Linked DNA regions of Homo sapiens. Changing the gene in region 2 together with the main gene of any one other region gives a genetic interaction. Each region holds a gene or a part of one and is shown on either strand. Other genes may lie near its edges.

Region 1 (3,600 bases), on a different chromosome or scaffold from region 2:
CCGAAATGCTTGGGACCCGAAGTGTTTTCGATTTTTTGATTTTGAAATATTTGCATGCACATAATGAGCTATCTTGGGGATAGGACCGAATTAAAACATAAAATTCATTTGTGTTTTATATATACCTTATACACATAGCCTGAAGGTAATCTTATATGAAACTTTTTTTTTTTTTTAAATAGTCTCGCTCTGTCACCTAGGATGGAGTGCAGTGGAGTTATAATAGTCCACTGCAGTCTTGAACTCCTGAGCTCAAGTGATCTTCCCACCTCAATCTTCTGAGAAGCTGGAGCTACGGGTGCTAATTTAAAAAAATTCTTTAAACATTTTTTTTTGTAGAGACAAGATCTTGCTATGTTGCCCAGGCTGGTCTCAAACTTGTGGCCCCAAGTTTCACATATGGGGGCATTTTGGATTTCCAACATTCTGATCAGGGATACTGAACCTGTAATAGACATCATGTGGAAAATAAATTGCACAATTCAATAAAAACATAGTTGGATTGCCAATTTTCTGTAAAAATTCGTGCATACAGATGAATTCAAAATACACCTGTGTGCGTTTGGACTAAACTAATAAATCATGTACAATGACTAAGAAGACATATGACAACATCCTAGAAAGACAATACATTATTGCCAACAAAAGTGCTTAGCACTAAGCTGTGCTAGGACTATGTAGACTGAATTTCTGCCTCTCCTCTTACACTGGCATGCTTATACAATTCATACTTTTTTCTTTCCTTTTTTTTTTTTTATTTTGAGACGAAGTTTCGCTCTTGTTGCCTAGGCCGGAGTGCAATGGCGCAATCTTGGCTCACAGCAACCTCTGCCTCTCGGATTCAAGGGATTCTCCTACCTCAGCCTCCCAAGTAGCTGGGATTACAGGTATGCGCCACCATGCCCAGCTAATTTTGTATTTTTGGTAGAGACGAGGTTTCTCCATGTTGGTCAGGCTGGTCTTGAATTCCCAACCTCAGGTGGTCCGCCCGCCTAGGCCTCCCAAAGTGCTGGGATTACAGGCGTGAGCCACCGCGCCCGGCCGTTCAAGTGATTTTCTTGCCTCAGCCTTCCGAGTAGCTGGGACTATAGGCAGGTGCCACCACGCCCGGCTAATTTTTGTATTTTTAAGTAGAGATGGGGTTTCACTGTTGGCCGGGCTGGTCTCAAACTCCTGACCTCTTGATCCGGCCACCTCGGCCTTCCAAAGTGTTGGGATTACAGGCGTGAGCCACTAAGCCTGGCCATACTTTTGTCTTTTAAAAGGCAAGGTGGGCCAGGTGCAGTGGCTCACGCCTGTAATCCCAGCACTTTGGGATGCTGAGGCGGGTGGATCACGAGATCAGGAGTTCGAGACCAGCCTGGCCAACATAGTGAAACCCTCGTCTCTACTAAATATACAAAAAATTAGCCGGGTGTGGTGGCGGGCGCCTGTAATCCCAGCTACTTGGGCTGCTGAGACGGGAGAATCGCTTGAACCCGGGAGGCGGAGGTTGGAGTGAGCCGAGATTGCACCATTGCACTCCAGCCTGGGTGACAAGAGTGAATCTCTGTCTCAAAAATAAAAAAGCAAAGTAAAAGGGTAAGCACATCATTTAGGCGCAACGGTGTCGGCTCAAGAGGATTTGCGATTTGGAAGAGAGCGAGGTTAGCGAGAAGACAGAAGGCTGGAACTTGGACGAATGTAAGCTGCTCGCGGAGGGGAGGCAGCGTCTTCCCTGCTTCAGGCCAGGCGTGGGATCCGGGCCGGTCTTCTCTCCAGTCCGGTTAGCGGGCGGTCACTGGGTCACATCTCTACGGACGTTTTCCTGTTATGACAGCCTCAGAAAACCCTTTCCAAAAGCTCCGGCCCGGAAATCCCATCCTCCACCCGAAGAAAACCCCATTTTCCTTTCCCGTCACCTTCGTTCGGAAGCCCCGGGGAAGCCCAGACCACCCCTCCACACATGCACAGCACCGAGGGCTTGCCTAGAACCCTCCCCGCCACCGTCGCCGTGATCCTCGTCGCGGCGGCCCCCCGGGCTCCCCAAACCCACCTGCAGCCTCAGCGCCTACAGCGACCCCGAGACCAAGGGCAACAGGGAACTCAACCCGCGCCAGTGGAAGCTGCGACCTCGGGACCTGCCATTCGCCGCGCCCGCACGGAGCAGAGGGGTGACGCCAGCAAATCATACTACTTTTTCCTCCTCAGGGTTGACTCCTCTCATTTTTTTTTTTTTTAGCTTCCAAACATTACCAATAATTTCTGAATAAAATTTCGCTCCAGACAGACGAGGCGTGCAGGCGTGACCGCCGTCGCCTTCCGACAGCACCGTGCCCACCCCCCGGAGATGGTCTCGCCCTGGTTCCTCCTCGTCTCCGCCGCTAGTCTCCAGCTCCAAAATGGCGGCTGCCACTGTGGGGCTTCTGCCGGCCGGTAGTCCCTGGCGCTGCTGACCCAGCATCGGCTTTTCTACGTCTTGAACCTGGATTCGCCTAGGGGTTGGGAAGGGCTGTGGACGGCGTTGGGGGAGGCCTGACGAGGCAAGTGAGGGCGGGAGAAAGGAGCGAGCCTCGGGCTGGGGAAGGCGGCGTCATTGGCCCTCCGGGAGCACGGGGCCCCGACTCCGACCCGGTCTCCCCCGAGGACTCGCCCCCGCCGCTTCGGCTGCGACTGTCCCGGTCGTTCCCGGCAGAAGTGGTCAGCGAGGGAAAGAGAAGTGACTTCTCCATGGGTTTCAAGCTCCCAGCTGTTTTGCGGCAGCCCGTACGGTTCCCTCCCGGGATCTTCTTCCCTCCTTTCTGCTTCCCTCTGCTTCCCCTTTCATCTCTTGGCGCTGGAAGAGTTAAACCGACGCCAGCTTTAGCTCCTTGGCTTCGTGGCTACGGCGTTCTTAGCCTCCCCTGCTCGGGCTCTTCCCGTCGTTTTGGGTTGAGAGACCACGAGGTTGCTAAGCTCTGGACACCGCTTAGGCGTCCTTTTAGTTCTTCGACTCCAGAGACCTTTCGGTTGTTTGTACCACACTGTACTAAAAGGGTCTTGGGCCTTCGCGCCCTCCCGCCATCGCCCTCCAGCGCTTCCACTATCACTGCGAAGTTCTAATTCTTTTTTGACTTCGTACTATTTTACGTGCTCTTTAGAAAAGAAGAGGTCAGATTGAACCCCGGCAAGTCTGGCTTCCTGTGACCAGGCGAACCTGAGCTATCATTTATACCCATCCCCTAATTTTTAATTTTACAACCCCTTTAACCCCTTTCTTTTTTCTTTCTTTTTTTTTTTTTTTAATAAAGACGGGGTTTCACTATGTTGCCCAGGCCGGTGTCGAACTCCTGGGCTCAAGAGATCCTCCCATTTTGGCCTGTGCTGGGATTCCAGGCGTGAGCCACCATGCCCGGCCTTGCAACCCCAGTATGAAACTGGGGCTCTCCCTCAACTGACCGAGAAGAGCCTTCCCCACTCAGTGAGCTCCAGGGCTAACCCAAACTCCTCTGTTTTCCCTTGGATTTTGCTTAGTTCACCTTAGTTGTCATCAACATGCACGGTAATTATTTTTTATTTTTGAGAAGGAATCTCGCTCTGTCGCCCAGGCTGGAGTGCAGTGGCACGATTCTCGGCTCACTG
Region 2 (3,729 bases):
CCTCAGCCTTATTCACAGCATTGCAACCAGGGTGATAAAACTTGCTCATGCAAAGTCCAGTGTGGCCTTGGCTCCAGCCCTAGTGGAAACTTACAGTCGTTTATTGGTCTATATGGAAATAGAGTCTTTGGGCATCAAAGGATTTATCAGTAAGACAGGACTTTCTGGTGTTTATAACTATTAACCCATTCATTAACTCTAAAGTTACTTTTCTAGGTCCTGGGGACACAGCAGAGAACAAGTCACCACCATGATGGAGCTTATGGAGGAGGACATTAAATAAATGAAATATACAATATGTCAGATGATACATGTTATAGAGAAAAATAAAGCAAAAAGGAATAGGAAGTGTGAGGGTTGGGGGGTTTGTTGCATTTTTAAGTAAAGTGGTAAGAAAAGGTTAATGTGCTAGGTGCCTGGGATGCAGTGAGCAGGATAGACCTGGTCCCTGTCCTCATGCAAATGGATTCTGCCTGAGGCAGCAATGCTGTCCTCCAGTGCATACGAAGTCTGACTGGAAATAAAGAAGGAATTTTCCTACCTTGCAGAAGATACATTATAATGTCTCATTTATTATATAGTTCTAAAATAATAGATACTTTCTGATATAGAAGTGTTTTTCTGATTCATGGTAATTCCAGCTTTTCACGAATACAGCATAGTCTTAATTTTAACCACAATAACTCTTCTTAGATAACTGATTGTTGAACAAAACTTTCTTGGGGGTAGGAGGAAACAAGGGCAGGTATAATACAATTTTTTGTATTAAAAAGTGAACCTCATACTTCAAAAGGTATGGAACATTAATTGTCTAAAAATAAAAGATATCAGAATTGAGAAGATTAATGTTTTTTCATATCTTGTCTCATTTTATTTTTCCAGATAAACATGATTATCAATTGCCAAATCCCAGGAAAAAAGCAAACTTGATATTATAGTTAGGATCTGAATTTTTCCTTACTGTTAAAGTAGAAAATAAGAAAATATGGAGAATATATATGTGTGTGGGCGTGTGTATTTTCACAATCAAATCTTTATATTTTACTCAATGTGACTTTCTTCAAATATCTTTTCATGCATAGCCTTTAATAATTGGTACCTTAAATTGTCTTTTTCCTCCAGGTCAGCTTTTGCCAACTGTTTTCAAATCACATGCATGGGGGATCTTACACACACTCCTTGAGATGTTTAGCTACCGGATGCATCATATTCAGCCTCATTACAGAGTTCAGCTCCTGAGTCATCTTCATACTTTGGCTGCAGTTGCACAAACAAACCAGAACCAGCTCCATCTTTGGTGAGCTCATTGAAGACCATCTTTCCTTAAGATTTATTAGAAACTTTCTTGGAGATGAGGTTCTTAATCCTTTACCTTTACCTTATAGTTTTTTTTTTTATTATTATTCATCTGTCATAAAACTTCTCTGCTTCTAAAGTATTTTGTTTCCAGTATAGGAGCAGAGTCCAGCTTTTTAAATAGAAACTGATTAAGATAGTTGAGTCCTTCCTTCAGGATCTTTGGACTGAGAATTAGTACTTCCAGGGTATTTATTATTATGTTGTAACTTAGCCCTTTAGAATGCTGGTTTTAAGTATACTTCAGATTATGGTTAAAGTATCATGTCACATTGATTTTGCTTTACATTAAAATATATTTTAGATAGAAAAATATAATTTTTGAAATGCAGTATCTCCAGGTGAAATTTTTTAGTCCTATAGGCGACAAGCCATCTTTTTCAAATGTGTAAAAAGTCACGATTTTCACTATAAAATTGGACACATTAGGTTTTTTAAACAAATTAAGCAACATTTATTCTCACACAAAAGTGTTTTTTTAAAGAAGGGATAGTCATAGATTGCATGTTTTTCCATTGTAATTAACCTTAGATTTAATTCCATAATTCTGAAATTTTTTTACATTTCTTTTTATTCTCCCAATTTTCAGTGTCGAGAGCACTGCTCTCAGGCTTATAACAGCATTAGGTAGCTCAGAGGTACAACCGCAGTTTACACGCTTCCTTAGTGATCCCAAAACAGTGCTCTCAGCAGAATCTGAAGAACTGAACCGAGCCTTGATATTGACCTTGGCTAGAGCAACTCATGTAACAGGTACGGTGAATATGTGACTACAAACAACAACAGATGAATTAAAGTGTGCCATGATTCTACTAATTACTATAGTTGTAACATACTAAAAAGATACTTTTCATTTGTTTGAAAAAAGCCTGTTGTTTTGATATCTTCACTATTTCACTCATTTATGGAAGCTCTTTTGTGTACCATCATTCTATTAATAACTGCGTTGAGCATCGTTTTCAGCTATCCATAATTTTAAAGTAGTAATACTTTAAGCTTTTTGGTCTCAGGACTGCTTTACACTCTTAAAAACAAAATTGAAATTCCCAAAGAGTTTCTGTTTATATGGATTATATCTATGGATATTTATTATATTAGATATTAAAATTAAGAAGTTTAAAAATATTTATTAATTTGTTTTTAAATAGCAATAATAAACATTACATGTTAATATATGATGTTATAAAAAAAGTATATTTTCTAAAGCAAAACTTTAGTGAGAAGAGGTGCCATTGTTTGACATTTTTGCTTCTCTAATATCTGGTGTAAAGGAAGACATAGTTTGGATTCTCATCTGCTTAGACATTTAATCCATTGAAGTTTTAGTTGAAGTAAGTGAAAAATGTGGCCTCACACAGATGAGGTTGGAAAGAGAGGAGTATTTTAATAGCTTTTTCAGATAATTGGGAATGTTCTTTGACATCACATGGAAAAATGATAGTTGCTTAAAGGTTAGCTGCAATATGGAATCCAAAACCCCCAGTAAACTTCATGTACTTTGTTACATTATAATCTGTACATCTGTTTTATACATTTAGTGGATTTTTAAATCCATGCATGTTTTGTAACTTCATGAATTATTCATTTTGAAAATACTGGTTCACTGAGTTACGTAGATCTAGCAAACGTTGACATTTTGTTTATACAGTATCAGAAAATTACATTTGTTAATATCACTGCAAAGTTTATTAGAAAAATCTAAGTTTTGGAATGCTATCATGTCGTGGTAGATACAGGTTTTCCAAAATTTCAATTTTTACTTGAAAGGTCAAATTTTATCATTGGAAAAAGTTACTATCATTTGTTTTCCTTAAAGTGACAAGCTCATTTTGTTAATTTTCAAGAAAATGTCTGCTAAATACGTAAGTCTAGCTAGCTATAGTTTTCTGTCAGACGTTCTTTCAAGTAAAATTGGAATTCAAAAAAAAAAAAGCAGCTGATTTAACTCAGTGCTCAGTCAGTCACACAAGTGCACAAGTGTTTTTCCTCAAGACACCCATCAAACTTGGAACACTAGGCATATGCTTCCCCTTTTGTTACATATGATGTTAAAAATAGGTGTCGAGATTGACACTGGCACTTTTCTTTCACTGAGTGCATGTGCTGGAGAATACAAAGCCTTTTCATCTAGTCTGGCACCACTGTTTGATTTGTGCTTAGGACCAGCAGTTTTACCACCATTGCTTTTGTACCGTCAGTGCTCATACCAAGTGAAAAAGCCTGATATCTTTTTATTATTATTTGACCTCATTGAATCTTTGAAGGGCTATTGGGGAATCCCCAAGAGGTCTACAGACCACACTTGAGAACTGATGTTTTAAAGAGATAGTTATTGGTTTTAGCAACCTCAAATACGTTTATGTAAATTATTTT
Region 3 (3,829 bases), on a different chromosome or scaffold from region 2:
AAATCCAATTGCTCCCCCAGATAACTATCTTATGAATCATGTCTATCACAAATTATCACTAGATAATCAACTTAATTTACTTTTTATTAAAACCAACCTGCTGAAAAGAATACAAATTTTGACTAGGAGGAGAAAGGGGGAGTGGATTTATGATTTTATGGCAATTATAACAGGAGTGTTTCAATGGAGACTTTAGGCAACTAGAACTCAGCATGAAACCAGAAGGTAGAAGCTGATAAAGGCAGGGGTAAAAAGGAGAAAATGAGTTCAAAACAACTAACTTTCGGCCAGGCGTGGTGGCTCACACCTGTAATCCCAGCAATTTGTGAGGCCGAGGTGGGCGGATCACAAGGTCAGGAGATGGAGACCATCCTGGCTAACGTGGTGAAACCCCATCTCTACTAAATACAAAAAATTAGCCGGGTGTGACAGCATGTGCCTGTAGTCCCAGCTACTCAGGATGCTGAGGCAGGAGAATGGTGTGAACCCGGGAAGCAGAGCTTGCAGTGAGCAGAGATCGTGCCCCTGCACTCCAGCCTGGGCGAACAGAGCGAGACTATGTCTCAAAACAAAACAAAAACACTAGAGGGCAATTTTGCATGCAAATTATGCTAAGGCATAATTTTTAGTATTATCTTAGTATTTCTCAAAATGTAGTCATCTATGGATTTACTGAACAAATTTGCCATATCTGCTTATAATCATACACTACTTCATAATTTTTGACAACCATAAATAATATAATTTCCTTGACATGTTAATGGTATCATTGTAATTATCATGTGATGCTTTGGAGACTGATTATCATACTATGTGAGGCATTACAAAGAAAATCAAGACTCTTAGCAGACTGTGATCATTTTTCTTTCCCTAATAGATATGAGAGAAAATTACTGCTTGATTTTACTGTGAGAATTTGGATCCAGACCTACTGTCCTCATTAGGAATCAGAAATCAGAGAATCAGAAATCAGAATGAAATATCAAAATGATGCCCTAATGGCTATTGCAAAAGGAATATGTGGGTAGTTGGAGAGTGGAATACGTGACTCTGTTTTTGGAGCAGTATTCACATTTTTTATTTCGAGGTGTAAAATATACGTGGCCAACATTGTTACTTTCATCCACAGATGGAATAGCTGGGAAGTATAAAAACCTGTACATGACCTTTAGTGAAGATTATTTGTCATCAAATTACCCATATCCAAGTTTCCATGGGCCTGGAATTTCCTTTCCACTTGATAGAAGTATATATTAGGAAGTCCAGTTAATAATATTTTTATTTAAAAAAAAAAAAAAGGAAAAAAGAATCAGCAGAGTCAAGTTGTCTTAGTCTTAAGGCTTTCTGGATTTCTTCCTTGGAGGAGGTCAGGATCTTCCCAAGGCCTGGGTCCTCGAATATTCTTCCAGTCATCAAACTTGGAGTCTTTGATTTTCTATAGAACCACAAAAAATTAAAGTATAAATATTAGTATAAGAGCCTGTGGCTTTGATTAGGACACAACTAACTCAATGAATAAATGAGTAGAAAGTATCCGATAGGTCCTCGATTACAACTGTAGCAAATAAATCAACTACAATCATTGATGAAATGTCATCTTAAGATTTAGAACTTTTCATTTGTTACTGATGTTAATGCCTATCTTACGCCACCTTAACCGTAAAACTATTAAAATAGAGAAAGAGTCTACATGCCTTATTTTTGAGAGGACAAGGAAAAGGCTGAAGCTGGGAAAACAAAAGTACAAATCTGAAGGCTGATCCAGCACAGTGACTGAAAGGGTTATCAGGGATGATGGTAGAAAATAAGAAGAAAAGAACAAAGGGTGGAGACCCTAAAGTCTTCTACAAAAAAGAAAAGAGACCAAGATCATTTGTCTTACGCCTGGGCTTAGGAATGAAAAGACTTTCCTACAGCTATCTATCATAAGCAAAACACTTTTGGGCAACTGAAACTAACTGCAACTACATTATGGATCATCCTACCTTCATTTAGTCTGAAGTACCTCTCAAGCACAAAAATAGTTGGAATAAAAGGGAAGAAATAAATGTTTCTTCACCTTTCTCCTACTGACCACCACTCTGACATTAACTTTTACATATCTGCTGTTTTGGTTGTTCTGAAATAATTGAGTAAGATGGAAAAAAAAAGCTGTGAAAACATAGGATAGCTTATATCCAGAGACAGGGAAAATGGAATAAATTTACCTTGACACTTGGATACTAAGCATTACTCTCTTACTAACTAGCTATATAACCTTTGGAAAGTAATTTAAGCCACCTGGGCATTAACTCTCTCATAAGTAACAATGAAAAGGTTGGACCAAATACTCTACATTTGAGAGTCTTCAGCTCTCAAATTCTACAGGTCCTAGAAGAACTAGAAGGAAAATCTACTCCCAGACAAACTCTTCATAGCATCATTACTGGTATAGCACTTGTAGAACTACAAGTTAGCAAGTTACAGGATTTTTTTTTTTAATCAATGGGAAAGTAGTAAATGAAAATACTGTTCACTTATAGTTTTACCAGGAGTCTGTATTACATATATACATGAAGGAACAAAATTCAACTAATTTAGCATACAAGAAGAATTTAGATTATTTCATAAGTATAGTTATGAAATGATCTAAAGTTATTAAAAGATTTTAATAAAGAATAATGGCCATTATCCAGGTAACGTAAGATATGTATGCTTAACAGAACTGAAGAAAATTCTTAAATAACAAGTTCATGTAAAAGTAGTCTAGCCTTTACAGATCTTTGGTGAAGGAGATTCCTTGTAGAATTCTACAAAACGTGCACAGTGGCTGAAGAATGGGCTATGTAAATGTGCTGAGAAAAACCACCCAAGACATAACACTTCACAGCCAACTGGTATAGGCCTGAGTGTGGAACAGCGTCAAGAAATGCTGAGAAAAAACAGTGTCAAGAATATGGAGTTTCCAGGCCTGCCAGAGTGGAGACCTTTCTTTTAACATTTTGTTGCTACCCTGACATCCACCTAAGACACCAAAAGGACTGTTCTTCAGGAGTAAAAATTATGCCTGAGAATAAGATTTTTTTTTTTTTTTTTTTTTTTTTGAGACGGAGTCTCGTTCTGTCACCCAGGCTGGAGTGCAGTGGCGCGATAAGATTTTCTTTAGACTCACCCCAACAAAGCTTAAAGCCAAGCCTTGACAAGATTCTCTGGGGAGATAGTCTGGAGATTGAGTCCCAACAAGGGAGAAGGGCCAAGGAAAGATAGCTAGCCCTTCAACAGATACTTCCCTACAAAGCACAAAATGAAGTTTAAGGTGATTAGCTAACAATTAAATTGTCAAAATAAAAATCAACACTCTTCAGAATTTTCTTCAGTGTATTATTCACAATGACTACCTTTCAATACAAAATGACCAGACATATACAAAGAAACAGGAAAATATAATCCAGTCAAAAAAATGACAAACTCAAAGACATGAAGAACATCCTCACCACATCCCATAATATAGCGTGCTGTTAAACTCCTTGATTTTTGCTAATTAGATGGGTGAAAAGTGATACCTCGTTAGACTTTGACATTCCTATTATGATAAATTGAGCATCTCTTCATATGTTTAAGAATGATACTTATTTCCTTTTGTCCAAAAGTTTTACATGCTATGCTTTCCCATGTTCTTACTGAACAAATGAATTGTTGAACTTTTTCACATTGATTTGGAGATGGTCTTCATATTTAAGTAAATTAATGTGCCATGATAAGATTAAACTATATCTGTAGGATTTCTCATGTAATCTGTGACTTTATATACTTTTTTCATTCTTAACTTTTGAATTTGTATGTATGAACC

What was found.
Region 1: changes in MED23 (region 2) and NDUFB1 together harm fitness more than expected from each alone (negative genetic interaction), as found in Homo sapiens cells (one large-scale study listed by BioGRID).
Region 3: changes in MED23 (region 2) and COX16 together harm fitness more than expected from each alone (negative genetic interaction), as found in Homo sapiens cells (one large-scale study listed by BioGRID).

Annotation. Positions count from the first base shown.
Region 1 is NC_000014.9:92,119,607-92,123,206, forward strand, and holds the start of NDUFB1 (NADH dehydrogenase [ubiquinone] 1 beta subcomplex subunit 1), read right to left. Parts: upstream 2,101-3,600; 5' UTR 2,036-2,100; intron 1,794-2,035; exon of another isoform or gene 1,590-1,793; intron 1-1,589. UniProt on the Homo sapiens protein: Accessory subunit of the mitochondrial membrane respiratory chain NADH dehydrogenase (Complex I) that is believed not to be involved in catalysis. Complex I functions in the transfer of electrons from NADH to the respiratory chain.
Region 2 is NC_000006.12:131,600,598-131,604,326, reverse strand, and holds part of MED23 (mediator of RNA polymerase II transcription subunit 23), read left to right. Parts: intron 1-6; coding exon 7-149; intron 150-1,122; coding exon 1,123-1,297; intron 1,298-1,945; coding exon 1,946-2,109; intron 2,110-3,729. UniProt on the Homo sapiens protein: Required for transcriptional activation subsequent to the assembly of the pre-initiation complex. Component of the Mediator complex, a coactivator involved in the regulated transcription of nearly all RNA polymerase II-dependent genes.
Region 3 is NC_000014.9:70,325,015-70,328,843, forward strand, and holds the end of COX16 (cytochrome c oxidase assembly protein COX16 homolog, mitochondrial isoform 1 precursor), read right to left. Parts: intron 1,436-3,829; coding exon 1,319-1,435; 3' UTR 67-1,318; downstream 1-66. Other genes in the region: SYNJ2BP-COX16 protein, read right to left, coding at 1,319-1,435.